Linked DNA regions of Homo sapiens. The protein of the gene in region 1 purifies or fractionates together with the protein of each later gene. This does not show direct contact. Each region holds a gene or a part of one and is shown in the gene's direction. Other genes may lie near its edges.

Evidence for each region. Proteins that work in one complex are often made in the same cells at the same time.
Region 2: the proteins of MAN1B1 (region 1) and CD226 purify together in Homo sapiens (co-immunoprecipitation; one large-scale study listed by IntAct). This does not show direct contact.
Region 3: the proteins of MAN1B1 (region 1) and ASIC4 purify together in Homo sapiens (co-immunoprecipitation; one large-scale study listed by IntAct). This does not show direct contact.
Region 4: the proteins of MAN1B1 (region 1) and TMSB10 purify together in Homo sapiens (co-immunoprecipitation; one large-scale study listed by IntAct). This does not show direct contact.

The regions. Positions count from the first base shown.
Region 1 is NC_000009.12:137,105,609-137,110,517, forward strand, and holds the end of MAN1B1 (endoplasmic reticulum mannosyl-oligosaccharide 1,2-alpha-mannosidase), read left to right. Parts: intron 1-516; coding exon 517-707; intron 708-1,080; coding exon 1,081-1,201; intron 1,202-1,641; coding exon 1,642-1,839; intron 1,840-1,922; coding exon 1,923-2,054; coding exon of another isoform or gene 2,055-2,354; exon of another isoform or gene 2,355-2,770; intron 2,771-2,779; coding exon 2,780-2,983; 3' UTR 2,984-3,575; downstream 3,576-4,909. UniProt on the Homo sapiens protein: Involved in glycoprotein quality control targeting of misfolded glycoproteins for degradation.
Region 2 is NC_000018.10:69,891,169-69,896,081, reverse strand, and holds part of CD226 (CD226 antigen isoform a precursor), read left to right. Parts: intron 1-36; coding exon 37-381; intron 382-4,913.
Region 3 is NC_000002.12:219,534,774-219,539,686, forward strand, and holds the end of ASIC4 (acid-sensing ion channel 4), read left to right. Parts: exon of another isoform or gene 1-397; coding exon 398-551; intron 552-2,292; coding exon 2,293-2,384; intron 2,385-2,468; coding exon 2,469-2,548; intron 2,549-2,858; coding exon 2,859-2,963; intron 2,964-3,159; coding exon 3,160-3,273; 3' UTR 3,274-3,999; downstream 4,000-4,913. Other genes in the region: CHPF (chondroitin sulfate synthase 2), read right to left, coding at 4,610-4,913. UniProt on the Homo sapiens protein: Does not exhibit measurable stand-alone pH-gated sodium channel activity but may form pH-gated heterotrimeric sodium channels. Its activity could also depend on alternative gating mechanisms.
Region 4 is NC_000002.12:84,904,253-84,908,376, forward strand, and holds TMSB10 (thymosin beta-10), read left to right. Parts: upstream 1-1,403; 5' UTR 1,404-1,466; intron 1,467-1,750; 5' UTR 1,751-1,765; coding exon 1,766-1,865; intron 1,866-2,136; coding exon 2,137-2,171; 3' UTR 2,172-2,419; downstream 2,420-4,124. UniProt on the Homo sapiens protein: Plays an important role in the organization of the cytoskeleton. Binds to and sequesters actin monomers (G actin) and therefore inhibits actin polymerization.

The DNA.
Region 1 (4,909 bases):
ACGCCTGGTGCTGCCAGCTGGGCGTAAGCCCTGAGGAGCTGAGGGTGGCTGTGACTTGGAGGATGAGTAGGAGCTCACCAGGAGGGCGTGGAGCCGAGGCGTTTAATATCATCAGGAGCAACACTGGGCTCAGAAGGCAGGCACACTTGCCGTCCCTCCAGAGCCATGGCTGACGGCCAGGCCTGGTGGGCTCTCGTGAGGACAGTGCCTGTGGTTGTCAGATGCTGTCCCTTCGAGTAAGGGATGAGAGCCATCCTGAAGATGGGTCAGCTCTGTGGTGACCACCCGTTGGGAGCAGTGACATTCAGGTGCGTTGCACTGGTGGCTGTGTGGCTGTGTGGTACGGCCACCAGGAGCCATGTGGGCAAGGACAGCTGTGGGCTGGGCACAGAGCTCTCTCTGCTGGGAGTCAGTCGGTGCTGGGGCGAGGGGAGGCAGAGCTCACAGAGCCCCTCTACAGCTCACCCTGCAGCTCGGCCCTGGCCAGTAAACCCACCATCCCCCTTTCTGCCGCAGGAGGCAGTGGAGAAGGTGACACAGCACATCCACGGCCTGTCTGGGAAGAAGGATGGGCTGGTGCCCATGTTCATCAATACCCACAGTGGCCTCTTCACCCACCTGGGCGTATTCACGCTGGGCGCCAGGGCCGACAGCTACTATGAGTACCTGCTGAAGCAGTGGATCCAGGGCGGGAAGCAGGAGACACAGTGAGGCCCGGCCCGCTGCCCCCAGCTCCCGCGGCTCCCCCGTTCCCGCAGCCCCCCACTCCTGCTGCCCCCAGCTCCCACGGCCCCCGCTCCTGCTGCCCCCCGCCACACTGTGTGTCAGGAAACCGCAGCCGTGCCAGGCCTGGCCCAGGCATTTATGTGGAGGGCGTATTCATTCACCTCTCACCGTGGCCTCTGGGGGGGTGAGGGGGGCATCTTCACTGAGGGCCATGGGCTGTGCAGGGTGGCACCTTCTGTCCGGCAAGGGCCAGGCCTGCTGTACTTGTGTGGGCCCAGGATGTGCCTGTCCCTGGTGCCCCACGGGAGCCGATGCACCGTCCTGGTAGAGTGAGATGACTGCTGGTGTCCACAGGCTGCTGGAAGACTACGTGGAAGCCATCGAGGGTGTCAGAACGCACCTGCTGCGGCACTCCGAGCCCAGTAAGCTCACCTTTGTGGGGGAGCTTGCCCACGGCCGCTTCAGTGCCAAGATGGTGAGTGTGTCTGCGGGGCCTTCCGGCCGCCGCCCCTTTTACCTTGGCTTCCAAGGTGCCTGAGTCATGATGTCAAAAAGAACGAAATCCTGGCCATGGCGCCCACGTGGAGGCCCTGGGTGGACCGTGGCTGCCTGGCCAGGCCTGTCTTGGCAACAGGGCAGTAAGGCCTTGTGTGGCACCTGGGGTGGGCAGGGCTTCCCCAGGGCAGCTCCCTCCCCGTGCCCGGTGTGTAGCAGGTCCTCGGGCGGTGTGTGGGGGCCGGGTTGGAGGGCCTGGTCCAGGCAGCTCCGCTGTTCCATGCCAAGTGCCCTCGCGTGGCCTCCCCTCCCAGGGTACCAGGGCCGAGGCAGCGCTGGGCTCCCACGTTGGCTGCCCGTGCAGCTGCAGGCTGAGGGCAGGGCCTGGGATCTGGGGCTGAAGAGACCCTCTGATTCCAGGACCACCTGGTGTGCTTCCTGCCAGGGACGCTGGCTCTGGGCGTCTACCACGGCCTGCCCGCCAGCCACATGGAGCTGGCCCAGGAGCTCATGGAGACTTGTTACCAGATGAACCGGCAGATGGAGACGGGGCTGAGTCCCGAGATCGTGCACTTCAACCTTTACCCCCAGCCGGGCCGTCGGGACGTGGAGGTCAAGGTGGGCCTGGGCCTGGGTCAGGGTCCATCAGGAGGAGGGTGCTGGCAGGGCTGGCCTTGCCCTGAGCTCTGCTCCGCCCACAGCCAGCAGACAGGCACAACCTGCTGCGGCCAGAGACCGTGGAGAGCCTGTTCTACCTGTACCGCGTCACAGGGGACCGCAAATACCAGGACTGGGGCTGGGAGATTCTGCAGAGCTTCAGCCGATTCACACGGGTGAGCACCTGTCCTCGCCCCGCGTGGTCACGGCCACCGGGCCACAGGCACGGCTGGGCTGTGGGGCTCAGGCTGGCTCCGCTCTTGGTGGTGGCTGTGACCTGGATCCGGGAGGGGCGGGCTTGCCGCAGCCTCGGGGTGGCCACACTGCAGCTTGGGGGCCCTGGCATCCCCATCCCCACTGAGCTTCATGGTTGTGGGACCCAGAGTACTTGGAGGGGCTGGGCACCCCTCATTTTCATTTCTCAGGGCCTGTCTAGGGAGGGTCTCTGCTGTGGGCCCAGCATCCCCCCAGTTTAGGAGGCACACGCACCCATGACTGGGGCACCATCCCCACTGTGGACCAGGCCCTGTTTTAGGTCACGCCCTCCACGCCAGAGTGTCACTTCCTGGCTCTGCTGTGATCTTGGCCTGAGGCCCCCGCTGCCTCCGCTCCCACCGTCTGCCCTGTGCCCTGTGCCCTGTGCGGCAACTGTGAGGCCCCCTGAGCCCAGGTTCTGGGGGAGGCGGTTTCTGTCGTGGTCACTTGAGGGTTGTTGGCATTTCCAGGTGGGCTCCGGTGGAACCACACGGCTCGCCTGGGGGTGGCCATCATCCAGGCGCCCTCCACCCTGAGCTTGCGCTGGGGGCCACATTCACCATGGGGTGGAGAGCGCTTCGGTGATGAGGCTGAGGGGGGTGCAGGGTGCCCCCCGTGTGGTGACGAGGCCCTGGCTGCTGCACAGGTCCCCTCGGGTGGCTATTCTTCCATCAACAATGTCCAGGATCCTCAGAAGCCCGAGCCTAGGGACAAGATGGAGAGCTTCTTCCTGGGGGAGACGCTCAAGTATCTGTTCTTGCTCTTCTCCGATGACCCAAACCTGCTCAGCCTGGATGCCTACGTGTTCAACACCGAAGCCCACCCTCTGCCTATCTGGACCCCTGCCTAGGGTGGATGGCTGCTGGTGTGGGGACTTCGGGTGGGCAGAGGCACCTTGCTGGGTCTGTGGCATTTTCCAAGGGCCCACGTAGCACCGGCAACCGCCAAGTGGCCCAGGCTCTGAACTGGCTCTGGGCTCCTCCTCGTCTCTGCTTTAATCAGGACACCGTGAGGACAAGTGAGGCCGTCAGTCTTGGTGTGATGCGGGGTGGGCTGGGCCGCTGGAGCCTCCGCCTGCTTCCTCCAGAAGACACGAATCATGACTCACGATTGCTGAAGCCTGAGCAGGTCTCTGTGGGCCGACCAGAGGGGGGCTTCGAGGTGGTCCCTGGTACTGGGGTGACCGAGTGGACAGCCCAGGGTGCAGCTCTGCCCGGGCTCGTGAAGCCTCAGATGTCCCCAATCCAAGGGTCTGGAGGGGCTGCCGTGACTCCAGAGGCCTGAGGCTCCAGGGCTGGCTCTGGTGTTTACAAGCTGGACTCAGGGATCCTCCTGGCCGCCCCGCAGGGGGCTTGGAGGGCTGGACGGCAAGTCCGTCTAGCTCACGGGCCCCTCCAGTGGAATGGGTCTTTTCGGTGGAGATAAAAGTTGATTTGCTCTAACCGCGATGTCGCCTGTGTCTTTAGGGATCTCCATGACTGGAAAGTCTGGGCGGACGTTGGGGAGAAGGTATTCTTCAAGTCACGTCTCAGAATTCGGTTTGCTGAGACTGGACTCTAGCTGTCCCCTGCTGGTGGGCAGGGAGAGGCCACGGGGAAGCTCCGTGTCCCTGGCCCCACGGGGCAGATGCTTGGCGGGAGGCATCCTTGCGCCTGCGTTTCACACAGGGCCTGTTTCCCTGCAGGGCTGGCACTGAGGCGCACAGCTGAGGGATACACGGGCCCTCAGGTCAGGCAGCTCCCAGCAGCCTGGCATGGCTATGGCCCCGAGCCCTGGGCTGTGGTGGCAGAGTTGTCCTCATCATCACTCTACTGCTGTCCCTATCCCAGGGCTGACCCTGGGCCTTGGCTGGGTTCCCCCCGACCCTGAACCAGGTGACCTCTTAGGACCACGCCCCCTCGCTCTCCCCTGTGAAAAATCCATCACCTTCACTTCCGGAAGACTCCCCTTCCCTGGGAAGCCAGAGCCGGTGGCGGCACAGGGCAGGGCTACCCGGACCCAGCCCAGGATTGCCAGCTCCGCCCCTCGGGACGTCCGGGCCCCGAGTGTGGGCCTCGGCTCTGCCTGTCCCCACAACCCCCAACATCCCACAGCAGCCACCTGTGTCCCTCTGGGGACAGTGGGCACCCTGGGGCTTCGTCTCCCACTTCATGCTGGGCCCTGATCCTGCACTCCACCCTCTGTGCCTGGAAAGGTGAGAACATCGGCTGTCATGTGACCCTGGCGCCTGCCCCTTGTCACGGTGGGCCCAGCACGGCCCTAGCCTGCCCCTTGTCAGTACCACCCTAGCCCGCCCCTTGTCACGGTGGGCCCAGTGCTGCCCTCCTGGACCAGGTGCCCCATGGCCGGCTGAACGGGCAGGACTAGGGCAGCAGGTGGGGCCTCAACAGCCGGAAAAGGTGCACCTTCTCCATCTCACCCAGACCTCCGAGACTAACGTGCTGGGGGCGTGGTCCCAGAGGGTGGAGGGACAGCAACTGCATGCCCCTTGGGGGCCAAAAGCACTGTCCAGTGGCCTCCCCTGGAGGGGTCGCTGTGTACAGAGGATGTCAGGGAAGGAGTCACCTTGGAGGTGTGGCTGCAGCCTCTGTCTGCTGCGGCTCAGCAGAGCGGGGCTTCCTTGCGGGGCACTGCCCCCCGCTGCCCTAAGGAGCAGACCTGAGCGTTGTGGAGCCTCTACCTTGTGGAGCACATGGCATACCCGGCCTGTGTGGGGTGCGCCGCGTCCCCAGCCGTGTCTCCGAGGGTCCCGCTCCCACAGCCTGCGTGTGGGCCC
Region 2 (4,913 bases), on another chromosome or scaffold:
ACAACCTGTATCTAATCATTTGCTTCTTCTTTTCAGATAGTTTTGAGGCAGCTGTGCCATCAAATAGCCACATTGTTTCGGAACCTGGAAAGAATGTCACACTCACTTGTCAGCCTCAGATGACGTGGCCTGTGCAGGCAGTGAGGTGGGAAAAGATCCAGCCCCGTCAGATCGACCTCTTAACTTACTGCAACTTGGTCCATGGCAGAAATTTCACCTCCAAGTTCCCAAGACAAATAGTGAGCAACTGCAGCCACGGAAGGTGGAGCGTCATCGTCATCCCCGATGTCACAGTCTCAGACTCGGGGCTTTACCGCTGCTACTTGCAGGCCAGCGCAGGAGAAAACGAAACCTTCGTGATGAGATTGACTGTAGCCGAGGGTGAGTGAGCACCAGACATCTTCTGGTATCAAACATGGAAAAAGCCAGCCCCGTGGGCTGGTCTCTGTTTTTATTTATGGTAAACATGTTCATTTAATGCGCATATTCAGCATTTTTTTAAATGGCTGAATTTAGGTGAGTTGGCCATTATTCTAGTATTGAGGGTTTCTTTATCTTGTGAATCCATCAATCAGATACAGCAATAAAAATCTTTCCAATTTTCTTATCTGCCACCATCCTGAAGCTTAAAAAAGAAATTCGTAAAGGGCTGAAAAACATATGGTATTACCAGCCTTCAGGTTTCAGCTGTAGAACTCCTATCTTCCCAATTACATGAATATTTTTGATGGTGGTGATAAGGTGTTAGAATCCCCACATACCCCAGCAATACAAGACAGTGCTAGGTTGATATGGCTGAAGCAGGGCTGCGTTGAGTGCATTTCAGCAGGTGTTTGAGAATGCGGTTGCCAGTTTGCCAGACAGGAGCCTTTTTTTCTCTCAGTCTTTTTCAGATGTGGATGCAGAAACAGACTGATGTTGCATCTTAATATTACTAGGAAAATAGGTTTGACCTTGCAGATCCCCAAAAGGGACACAGGGATCCTCAGGGACCCCCAAACATACTATAAGAACCACTGACTTAGATCTTTGGTGACCATTACTGAGTATAATCTTTGTGCTGGTGAAATTGGCCTTTGGGGCTTCCACCTCCTCCAAGGCCTCCTCCAAGGCACCACACTATTTGTATATTAGGCATTTGTCTTTTTTTTGTCACAATGAAGCCTTTCATTGTGTTTCAGGACCTGCAAAACCTAGATCCACTTTGCATGAGTATGAGAAAAAGTAATTTCTTTCACTTACAGAAGTGCTAATATAGAGAGGCCCATATAGAGGTCTGTGTAGAGGCCTGCATTACAGTTGAGAGAGAGGAAGGCCATCCCAGGCTCTCCCAGCTCTGCCTCTGGGCCAGCTTCCTCACTGTCGGGACACGGAAGAGAAAATAATTTATTTTTACCTTTCACTTTGTTCTCCCTTCTTCCTTTCCTTCCTCCCTCCCCTCCCCTCCTCCCCTCCCCTTCCTTCCCTCCCCTACCTTCCCCCTCCCCTGCCCTCCCCCTCCCCATCTCCCTCCCCTTCCCTCCCCCCCCTCCCCTCCCCTCCCCTCCTGTCTCTCCCCTCCCCTCCCCTCCTTTCTCTCCCCTCCCCTCCCTTCCCTTCTCTCCCCTCCCTTCCCTTCCCTCCCCTCCCCTCCCCTCCCTTCCCTCCCTCCCTCCCTCCCTTCCTTCCTTCCTTCCTTCCTTCCTTCCTTCCTTCCTTCCTTCCTCCCACTTGAGCAGGCCCCTTCCAAAGCACTGCACTATTTGTGTATTAGGCATTTGTCTCTTTTGTCACAATGAATCCTTAAATTGTGTAAGATTCCAGCCCCCACAAAACCTAGATCCACTTTGTATGATTGTGAGAAAAAGTGATTTTTTTTTTATTTACAGAAGTACAAATATAGAGGTCCATATAGAGTTCTGTGTAGAGGCCTGTATTACAGTTCCCTCCCTCCCTTTCTCCCTCACTCTCTTCCATCTTTCCTTCCCTTCCTTCCTTCTTTCACTCTGTTCCATTCCCTTTTCTTTTCTTCCTTCCCTTCTCCCTTCCACATGCTTTCAGCCAGCTAATTTACCTTTGACTTATGTTAGACTTGTAGAGCCAACGCTTGCTAGGCTTTGGCTGTCCCTTTATAGACTTTGCTCATATTGCAAACTGATATTTCTTCCTGTGTTGAAAATGAAGAAGAAAAGGTCTTGTATAAACAGAAGCTTCCACTATAGCTCTGTGTATAATAAGGAGAGCATTTTCAGGGAATAACATCTTTTCATACACAATCACCTTGGACCACATCAAGCCTCCCTTGTTCCTCTAGGAACTGTGGTGAGACATACATTGGACTTAGAATTTAATGAAAATGATGAGTGGTTGGTGAAATATTTGGGGGAGGAAAAATTAGCAGAGACTCCTCATTTTAAATGTTGACTCTGTTCCTTCAGACACAGACAAAAAGAACTTCTTACCTAAAAATCCCTTGCATTATGGAAGTATTTTTTGAAACTGGTCAGGAAAAAGAAACAGTGAAAACAGATTAGAGACCAAGGCAAGAAAAAAATGTTCTATTCAGAAAAGTGTCATAAAGAATCATTTTCAAACACGTATAAGATTTTGCCCATTATATGCTGAAAAAGTAATTGTAAACATCTTAAATTATAGAGAAAATGAAGGTAACAGATTTTTAGGAGATATGGTTATTTAACTCTTATTAATTAATAAAAATGTCATTCATCTGTCCAAAGATGACTAAGTTTCTTGCACAAAACTATTTCTTTGTATGTAAATTATAAACAGCGTCAAACTCTGCCAATGAAATGAAGATGACTAAATGTAATGGTCAGTAGTGTTAGTGTCCATGTGTTTTGAACAGTTGCAAATGGCTTTTTGACATTCAGTTGACAGATTGAAAGAATGTCAACTGGACCTTGTATCCATTAGTAAAAAGTTATCATTGACAGAAGATGACAGCCATTGACTGTATGTTTCAGTTTAATTCCTTTTTTCAATTTTTATAAGTGAAAGATTGAATATAAAACTTAGATGCAAAGCAAAACAGATCATTTGTGTTTTCTCTGGTGCAATTTGATTATTTCACGTCTTGAGGCTCTTTGGTCAAAAATCAATGTGGAGATTAAAGCAGAGAGACAGATATAAGATGTGGGACAGATTTAATTTATTTCAACTGCCAAGGGAAAGGTGATTGTGGCAGATTTTATAAATTGCTGTACATACTTTTGTTAGTTCTCAATGACTTCTTTTATAGCACATAGTATTGGATCTAAAAGAGAGATTTTTAGGACTCTCATATTCATACACACACACACACATGCACACACAGACACGGACACACACACAGAGAGGGGCTCTTCCCCTGACTCCTACCTGCCTGCATTCATCTTCAGACAAGTACCAGGTCACTCAACAGAGGACCCCTGCCAACCAGCAGGTCAAGTATCCAGGCCTTGATTGGTTTTGAACAGAGGAGAAAATGGCAGAAGCAAGAACTGAACTCACATTTACCACTGACTTTCTTTGCTGAGTGAAAAGAAATACATTTCTCTTGTCCTTTGCACTTATGTCCTGAAATGTAGAATGAAATAATTCCAGACTGACTTTTCTGAATTTGAAACTTGCCTGGACCGAAGGGCAAGGAAAGTGGGGACGGGGGGAGCACAGGGGAATGTCTGTTTATTGACAGTGACTACAGTTATTTTTGGCCCTTAACATCCTCTGGATTTTCATTTGTCATAAGAGAAGTATTTTAGGTGCCACTAAAATAATTTGTCAAATATTTTAATATTAGCTAAATGATTTGCAGACTACTATTGTTTAAACTGACCTTATTGGCTATAAAAAGAATGAAGGCAAAAGAAATAAAATCAGCTCTTGCAGAAAGTTTCTGGAGGAGGCTAATATTGAAAAAACTTCTGTTTGCTATTGATAAGTATAATTACTCATGTCCTTGTATAATCGTCTTCCACCAGTGAGACCACTCAGGCGGGACCATCAAGGTTCAAATGAGGCATTGATGATTAGAGCTGAGGAATGACATGAAACAGGTTATGAAGAGTAACCCCAAATATGCAGGAGGAATGGGGAGATGGTGCATGGGAGACTGTAGTCAAATGACTAGGTTGGTATGGAGAGTCTAAGTTATGTATTAATATGGGACGAGGTAGGTTAAATTAAGTGATGACAGTGAAAACCTGCATCTCATATAATTGTCAAGCAAAGCTACCATTAGTTCTTGAGCAAAGATGGCAAAACAATAATCATGAAAGAATAAGTTGCTATATGATTTTCAGTGTGCAAGTCTTTAACATTTTTGGTTAAGTTTATTCTTAAATACTTTATTCCTTTTATTGTTATTGGGGATGGGATTTTGTTTTAATTCCTTTTTTGGATAGTTTGCTGTTTGTGTACAGAAACCTGACTGATATTTTATATGTTGATTTTTGTATCCTGCCTCTTAACTGAATTCATTTATTAGTTTGAACAGGTTTTTTTGTGGCACTTTTAGGGTTTTATACATATATGATTATGTCATCGGCAAACAGAGATAATATTACTTCTTCCTTTCTGATTTGAATGCCTTTTGTTTTCTTTTTCTTGTTTAATGGCTCTGATTAAGACTTCTTGTACTATGTTAAGCAGAGGTGTTGAAAGTGGCCACCTTTGTCTTTTTCCTGATCTTAGAGCAAAAGTTCTCAGTCTTACATGACTTGGTATGATGTTAGCTGTGGGCTTTTCATAGATGGCCTTTATTGTGTTGGGGTAAATTCTTTCTGTACCTAATTTGTTGAGAGTTTTTTTTTTTTAATCACACAAGGATGTTGAATTTGTCAAATGCTTTTTATGCTCTATTTTGATGATCATGTGGCCTTTTTATATCACTTTGTTAATGTGGTGTATTACATTGATTGATTTACATATGTTGA
Region 3 (4,913 bases), on another chromosome or scaffold:
CATCCATCCATCCATCCATCCATCCATCCATCCATCCATGCATGCATCCCAGCATCCTCTCCACACCTCCTTGTGTGTCTGAGGCCTCACATAGTTGATTAGCTCTGGTGGATGGGCTGTGTTCTCCCTCTGGGCCACGAGGACCCCCCCCCAGTCCCAGGGGGTTGGGAGGGTGCTGGGGGGTTCTGCTTATATCTGCTCTCTGGAGCAGTCTGAAGCTGGTTCAGGCGGGGACCTGCAGCCAGTCCCCTCTAGGAAGCACTGGGGCTGGCCAGTAAAGGCCCTCAGTGTGGGTGTGCCTGCCTCAGGACGGCCCCTGGGCCTCCTCTCTGCAGCTGGTGGGCCACTGGACCACCCTTCTCCAACTCCCACTGTAGCTGCTACCTCTGTGTTGCAGACTCCCTGGGTGGGGGCCCTGAGGGCCCGTGCTTCTGCCCCACCCCCTGCAACCTGACACGCTATGGGAAAGAGATCTCCATGGTCAGGATCCCCAACAGGGGCTCAGCCCGGTACCTGGCGAGGAAGTACAACCGCAACGAGACCTACATACGGTATGTGTGTGTGTGTGTGGGGGGTGGCTGTGTGACTCTGTGTGTACGTGTGTGTGGGGGGTGGCTGTGTGACTCTGTGTGTACGTGTGTGTGAGTGTATGTGTGTATGTGTTTGTGTGTATGTGGGTGTGGGTGTGTATGTGTGTGGGGTGTATGTGGGTGTGTACATGCATGTGTGTGTGTGTCTGTGTGGGGGGCATGTATGTGTGTCTTGTGGGTGTGTGAGTGTGTGATGTGTGTGTGCATGCACACTTATGAGTGTATGTATCTGTGAATGGGTATGTGTGTGAGAGAATGTGTCTATGTCTGTGTGGGTCTGTGTGCGTGTGTGTGTGTGGTGGAGGCTGCCCTCAACAGGCGCTGGGCATGGTGGAGGCAGGGAGTGGGCCGCATCTCTATGATGAGTCTTCTACCGGGAATGCCCTTCATAGCTCTATTCTTCTCCTTCTTTTTTTTTTTTTTTTTTGAGACAGAGTCTTGCTCTGTCGCCCAGGCTGGAGTGCAGTGGCACAATCTTGGCTCACTGCAACCTCGACCTCCCAGGTTCAAGCGATTCTTCTCCCTCAGCCTCCCAAATAGCTGGGATTATAGGCACCCACAGCCATACCCAGCTAATTTTTGTCTTTTTAGTAGAGATGGGGTTTCACCATGTTGGCCAGGCTGGTCTTAAACTCCTGACCTCAAGTGATCTGCCGTCCTTGGTCTCCCAAAGTGCTGGGATTACAGGTGTGAGCCACCTTGCCTGGCCACAGCCCTTCTCTTCTAAGTAGCCCCACTCATTGCTCAAGTCACGTTCAGTGTCTCCACCTCCAGGGAAGTGCTTCCAGGTCCAAACACCTTTCATCTGAGTTCCCAGCACCCGTACAGATCTCTGTCATTACACATATGCCACATTTCAGAGTGCTTTGCTTATGCATCTTTCTTCCCTGCACGGAGGGAGAGGGACAGGATGAGACAGGAGAGGAACACAGTACCCTGCAGGGGGAGGCAGGAGGGACCGCCCTGAGGCTTGGGTCTGGTCCCCTCCAGCCAGTCTACACTTGTGGAGCGTGGTCTGGGTGCCAGGCTCAGTGCTGGGTTCTGTGGGGACAGATGATTATGACACAAAACTCATGCCACAATTTGTCAATGAGCCCACGTTTGATCATGTAGGACTGATTCTCAGGCCCCAGTCGGGGAGTGAAGCTGGGGAGGCGTGAGCCGGCCTCTGAGGGCCCTGGGTTTGGGGTCTGAGAGAGGAGGCAATGGGGAGGCGTCCAGTGACAGGACGTGGGGCGGTGGGGTGGTGTGGCGGGGAGCCTGAGCCATAGGCAGCTGTGTGGAGGAAGCAGAAAAGACGGCGGCTGGGGAGGAAGGTGCCGGGGACAGGCCACCGGCTGCCCAGGACACCGAGAAGGGGCATTGTGGAGTGGACTGACGGGCAACAGGGGTCACTGAAGGGTCCGCAGAGGCGTAAGGAGGAGGCAAAGGCAACACCACTGGCTGCTTTAGAGGAGGGAGGAGTGTTTCCTTCAGGTCCAGGAGTTGTGTTTTGCTCTCCCAGGCCCTTTGCTACCCCTCAAAAGATGAAGCTAACACACATCCGGGACTGCCTCCCCTCACAGCCTTGGGGAGTCCGGGGGGTAGTCACTGACTTCCCCATGTAGTGATCTCTGATCAGGATCTGCTGGATCCAGGATGCCCCTGCCAGCCTTCTCAGGAAGAGAGGCCCACACGGATACCCTGCTTCCTGTCTCCACAGGGAGAACTTCCTGGTCCTAGATGTCTTCTTTGAGGCCCTGACCTCTGAAGCCATGGAGCAGCGAGCAGCCTATGGCCTGTCAGCCCTGCTGGGTGAGACTGGTGTCCCTGCCCCCAGCTTGTGTGGGGGTGGATCGGCCCGGCCGCTCCCTCTGACACTGCTCTCCTGCTTCCCAGGAGACCTCGGGGGACAGATGGGCCTGTTCATTGGGGCCAGCATCCTCACGTTGCTGGAGATCCTCGACTACATCTATGAGGCAAGGGCCCTGGAGAAGGCAGGGTGGGAGTGGGGGCCGTGGGCAAAGCAGAAGGGGGCAGTGCGGGGTGCCTGGTGGAGCTGGCCTGGCTGGAAAGTCAGGTTCAGGGTTCTCTGCCAGGGTCCCCTGACTGGCTGGCAGGCCTGAGGGCTCAGAGTCAGGAGAAGGGGATGGGTGAGGAGGAGGAGGGTGTCCTACTGGGAGTTTGCTGTGGCAGTAAGTCCTGTGGGCAGCTGGGCATGGTAAGGCTCACGCTTCTCCTCAACCAAATTTCCTGAGCCCACTGCTGTCCCCGACCCTGAACCCCAAGGTGTCCTGGGATCGACTGAAGCGGGTATGGAGGCGTCCCAAGACCCCCCTGCGGACCTCCACTGGGGGCATCTCCACTTTGGGGCTTCAGGAGCTGAAGGAACAGGTGAGGACAAGCTCTAAATGCCTGCAGCATGCAGCCACACCTCCCCAGGACTGAATACATCCATTGTTTCTGAACCAGCCTGTGGAGGGGGCCCTGGAGCCTCTGCCCGAGGTGACAAGGAAAGGCTGGCGGTGTGAGCCCTGGGGGCACCACTTGAGCTCTCCCGGTCCCACTCTCTCTTTTCTTTCTCCTGCAGAGTCCCTGCCCGAGCCGGGGCCGAGTGGAGGGTGGGGGGGTCAGCAGTCTGCTCCCCAATCACCACCACCCCCACGGTCCCCCAGGAGGTCTCTTTGAAGATTTTGCTTGCTAGGACGGTGCTGTGACTGAAAGGACCCAGGAGTCTGGGACCCCTCCTGGGATCCCCAGCACATTCTCCTGCTCCTGGGAGAGGCCTGGGGGCGGTGCTCACTGGGAGGGCCAGGACTCAGTTCCTGCTCTCATCCTCCCCTGCCCTGATGTCAGCTGCTTTGCACAAAGGTCCTTCTTGTCCACACCCCTTATCCCCAGGCTGGTGCCCCGGGAGGGCTGGAGACCAGGCCATGGGCCCTCACGGAGAGGAAGGGAAGGAAGGAGAGGGAGGGGGAGGATAGAGCCCATCCCAGCCGGGGAGGGGGAGCCCTCTGTACATTTGTAAATATTTAGGGAAAGCCGGGTGGGGGGAGGGGATACAGATGTAGAAGGTGGGTAGGGCTACAGGGGTGGGTGATTTAGGGACAGCCAGGGTCCCAGCCCCAATGTCAGCAGGATAGGGAGAGCCCCAGGACTCAGGAGTGCTGGGCTGGTCCTACTTCCTGCCCCTCTCCAGGCCCAGCTCCCCTCTTGGCAGGGGGAGAGGATGGCCCAGCAGGCCTGGCCCAGCTCCCAGTTCCCCCTGCACCAGCCCCACCCCTAGAGTCCCTTCTATAGGGAGGGGGCAGGAGACCTTCCAGACTTCGGCTGAGCTTGGAGGGTGGGAAGGGAGCCTTCTCAGTCCTCTCTCCCTCCAGTCTGATTTTATAAAGTGCTGACGAGATTGGGAATAAAGAGGCATAAAGAATTCTCTGTGTGTATGTGTGACCAAGCACGCACTGGGGGCCGGGGTGAGGCTGGGCACATGCATGACTTGGTCCCGGGTGAAAGGAAAGGCAGGCCCCAGCAGGGGCAGGGGAGCCTGTGGTGCTCAGCCAGTCCTCCCTCCCCCACGCCTGCCTACCTTTTCAAAACCTCTGAATCACAAGTCCACACTTGGCCAGTTTATTAAAGGCAGGGAGCTTCGGCAGGGTCCAAAAGGGAGAAGTTGGGAGATGCCCCCTCCTCAGCTCCCTCCTTCCCCAACAACTCTTCTACAGCCCAGCCCCCAGGGCCCAGAGGCAGGGCTGGCGTCAGGCAGACTGTACTGCATAAATACGTGGAGGCCACAGCCCGAATCAGCAGCGTCAGGGGGCAGGGAAACTGGGTTTGGGATGAGAAGTGGGTGGCTCTGGGGGCACGTCCCCCAGTGCTTGTCCAGAGCCCAGGGACCCACAGAGCCAGAGAGGGGACCAGTGGGCCAGCTTGGGGTCTGGCTACGGCCAGCCCTGCCCAGCGAGGCTGGCAGGTGGCTCTGGTTTTGGGGGAGAAGTGGGGTGGGGTGTGGCCATGCCACGGCCCACGGGGACAGGGTGGGGTCAGGTGCTGTTGCCCTGCTCCTGTTCAAAGAGTAGCATGGCCAGCTGGGTTCGGGAGCCGAGGCCCTCAAGCACGCTCTGGAGGCAGCGGTGGTACAGGTCCTCACTGAGCCTCGCGCTGCACGTCTGGGCCCGGTAGCGCTGCAGCAGCGCCGGCTCCACCGCCCGCAGCACATGCAGACTGGAGAAGTGGAGGAACAGCTCGTACACATCCAGGCTCTCCAGCAGCTCCTCTTCTTGTTCTGAGGCTGCCGCCAGGCGCCCACGGGCTGCCACATAGTCGGAGTTGTAGAAGCAGGCCTCG
Region 4 (4,124 bases), on another chromosome or scaffold:
CCCAGCACTTTGGGAGGTTAAGGCAGGCAGATGGCTTGAGCCCAGAAGTTCGAGACCAGCCTGGGCAACATGGTGAAATCTCGTCTCTACAAAAAGAACACAAAAGATTTGCCGCTAGTGGTGGTGCACGCCCGCAGTCCCAACTGCTCAGGAGGCTGAGGTGGAAGAATCACTTGAACCGGGGAAGTCCAGGCTGCCATAAGCCGTGATCACACCACTGCACTCCAGCCTGGGTGACAGAGTGAGACCCTGTCTCAAAAAAAGTAAATAAATAAAATCAGGACCGAATTTAGGATGTCACCACCAAATCCCACTTTAAAGAGCTCGGTAATACTTCACACTTAAAAAAGGAAAGGTCAGGACAAATAAAAGAATGACCAGCCTTAACTCCGGGGCTGGTAATTTATGGAACTTATTACCTAACGGTGTTGCACAGGCTGAAAATACAACTTTTCTAAGAAAGATGTGAATAATTGCAGTATACCACTCCTACAATGGGTTAATAAGAAAAACAAGAACGTTTGTAGGCATGTGGGTCTCTATTATCCTCAAGGTTAACTTCAAGGAGGAAAACCGCACCCGCTGATACAGTGTTTCTAGGAGCTCGACGAGAAAAGGCAAACTGCGAGCCTTCTCGGGACGCCCTGTTCCCACCACAGCCCTTCACACAATGCGTCTAACAGCATTTAAGGAACACCCGCCACGCCAACGATCCTGCTGGAACCGCCCAGTTCAGGGAACAGGGGACGACTGACCAGAAGGCAACCGCCCCCAACCTGAGCAAAGAGCGCTGGAAACCTATTCCCCCCTCCCCCTACACCCCCCCGCCCCCCGCTCCACTACGGGACCCTCGGCTCGAATTCTTTTAGTGCAGGACCACCTTAGGACTCAGCCTCCCTAAGGAGAGGAAAAGTGGGGGAGGGAAGGGGACTCTGGAGGAGCAAAAGCAAGAGGCCTGGGGGCGACTGGGGTGGGGCGTCTCCTAGAGCGAGGATTGCTGCAGAGTGCGCGTGCACGCCCGCACATCCACACCCACGGCTACACATCATATCTGCACACGCACAAAACCACACACCCTCCCACGCCGGTCCCATATCCTTTCTGCGGGGTGAGCAGCAGATTCCCGGAAAGGGGGAAATGTAGCCGCAAAAGCAAAGCCGGGGGCCTGGCGCCCACTCTGGCGGCGACTACAGCCCCCACGCTGGGCACACTGCGAGCTGGGGGTGCCCGGCGCGGGAGAAGCCGCGCCCAGCCGGGCTGGTAGCCCAGCGGGGGGCGCGGCAGGGCGAGGAGCAGCCCGCGCTGCTCCCGCCCCTCGGGTGCCAGCACCGCCCCTGCTGCGGCGGGTGAGGGGCGGGGCGGGGCGCGGCGTATATAAGGCTAGGGGCGGGCGCCGCTCTTTTGTTTCTTGCTGCAGCAACGCGAGTGGGAGCACCAGGATCTCGGGCTCGGAACGAGACTGCACGGTGAGTGCGGCGCCGGGGCGGGGGGCCCACCCAGGGTGTGGTCGGATCCGGTGCACCGGGCGGGCGCGCCGCAACCGCGACAGGCGCCCTTCTCGGACCGGACGCAGGGGCCGGCGACCACGCCCTGGGACCGAGAAGAGGGGTGCGGGACGCGCCCAGATCCTCGGCCTTGGGGCTGCTCGGCACGCCTTGGCGCGAGTGCCACGTCGAGAGGCGTCGGCGGGGAGCGCGGAAGGGGACGCTGGCCCCCAGGCCCAGGTCAAGCGCCTTGGTTTGCCCACTAGGATTGTTTTAAGAAAATGGCAGACAAACCAGACATGGGGGAAATCGCCAGCTTCGATAAGGCCAAGCTGAAGAAAACGGAGACGCAGGAGAAGAACACCCTGCCGACCAAAGAGAGTGAGTGTGCCTCGGTCTCCCGCGCCCCAGCCCAGCCCCTCACCCTGCTCTTCCTTGCAAACCCACTCCTCCACCCCCCACCCCGCCGTTGTCCCCGGTGTGGGCGGCCCCGGCCACTCTTTCAGTTTCACAAAGCGCCTTGTTTCTCCCCAGCCCCAAGCTTCCTTCTAAATCCCCACACCTCGTGGGTGCCTCGCCCACACCGGGAAGCACCTCGGTTGCGGGTGGGGGTTGCAGCTCCCCTCCAGCGCCCGCTTCCCGCTCTCCACAGCCATTGAGCAGGAGAAGCGGAGTGAAATTTCCTAAGATCCTGGAGGATTTCCTACCCCCGTCCTCTTCGAGACCCCAGTCGTGATGTGGAGGAAGAGCCACCTGCAAGATGGACACGAGCCACAAGCTGCACTGTGAACCTGGGCACTCCGCGCCGATGCCACCGGCCTGTGGGTCTCTGAAGGGACCCCCCCCCAATCGGACTGCCAAATTCTCCGGTTTGCCCCGGGATATTATAGAAAATTATTTGTATGAATAATGAAAATAAAACACACCTCGTGGCATGGCTGGCGTGGTCTGAGTCTTTTAGTTGAGTATGCGTGGGCAGTGCCACTGCAGCAAAGCCCCTCGATGGAGTAGAGTTCCTGCCGCAAAGGGGAGGAGGTGGGTCGCAGAATGGGCTGACTCGGAGGGAGTTTTTAATTTTGGCTTTACCTGCTTCTCCGTAAGATTTCATGACTTGTTAGCCACTTAACTCTTGCTCGTAAGCAATCTGTGTAAAATTTAACCCCACTTTGTCCCCAGGTTGCGTTGGAAAATGCTTTTTCAAAAGAGCAAGGTTTGCTTTTGATAAGCTTCGAAAGCCCCACTGTTTCCCTCTGGCCTCCTCCTAGCTGACTCAGAAGGGAACACTGATTTTAAAGAAAGAAAAGACAATCTGGAATGTTGGAAATTGGGTGAGGTCACAAAGTCTCCGGAAGCCTTTCTTCGGGAGCTTAAAACAAAGGCGGGATCTAGGGATACAGCAACGGGAACGTCAGAACTAGAAGAACCAACACTAGAACTGGGGGAGGGGAGGGGGGAAGAGCTTTTGTCTTTTAACCCTAGTTCAGAACCTCCCACAAAAACATTAGCCATTAGAGGAAGTGCTAGACTGATCTGCTACCACCCAGTGCTCAGCAGGAAGGGTGGGGATGTGGTGGGAGGGAGGAAGGGTGGGCTGGCGCTGGCGCTGGCGGCCAAGCTCCAAGGGATGACACCTCAAACCCACAGGGAAGGAATAGGACCAGCCCAAGGGGGCCTGACAGTTGGGAACCTGGGGCTGCAGGCCATTCAGAAGCAGAAGAAACAGGCTTATAAAGACAGGGGTGGAGTTTTCTTTAAGGAAGGTGGATAGGACACTGCTTAGAGATTCGTCCCACATTTTTGCCCGGCCCCAAGAGGCTGGGCACTGGGTGAAGACAGTTAATTCGAATAAGATACGGTCCCTGTCCACGAGGAATTTAAAATCTGGTGAGTGAGATAGCCACAGCAGACCAGAGTCAGGACACCTAGGCTTGGCAGGGAGACTCATGCCCAAAGGCATTCTCTCTGAACTCCTATCTGCACCTCCCTCCTGGTACCTGGACACATACATCACCTCCCCCATTAGAGTAAATAGAGAGACTTTTTTTTTTTTTTTTTTTTTGAGACGGAGTTTCGCTCTTGTCTCCCAGACTGGACTGCAATGGTGCGATCTCGGCTCACTGCCTCCGCCTCCCGGGTACAAGCGATTTTCCTGCCTCAGCCTCCCCAGTAGCTGGGATTACAGGCATGAGCCACCACGCCTGGCTAACTTTTTGGTTGTTGTTTTTTTTTTTTTTTTTTTTTTTGAAATGGAGTTTCGCTCTTGTTGCCCAGGCTGGAGTGCAATGGTGCAATCTCAGCTCACCACAACTTCCACACCTCCGCCTCCCGAGTTCTCCTGCCTCAGCCTCCTGAGTAGCTGGGATTACAGGCATGCACCACCACGCCCGGCTAATTTTGTATTTTTAGTAGAGACGGGGTTTCGCCATGTTAGCCAGGCTGGTCTTGAACTCCTGACCTCTGGTGATCCACCCGTCTCAGCCTCTCAAAGTGCTGGGATTACAGGCGTGAGCCACCATGCCCGGCTGAAAGATTCTTATTAATTGATATTGGTGACTCTCACAGTAGTCAGCACTTAGTAGACACTCATAAGTGCTCACTGAATTGTAACTGAAGTATCATATGGCCTCGCCTGCTCCAACT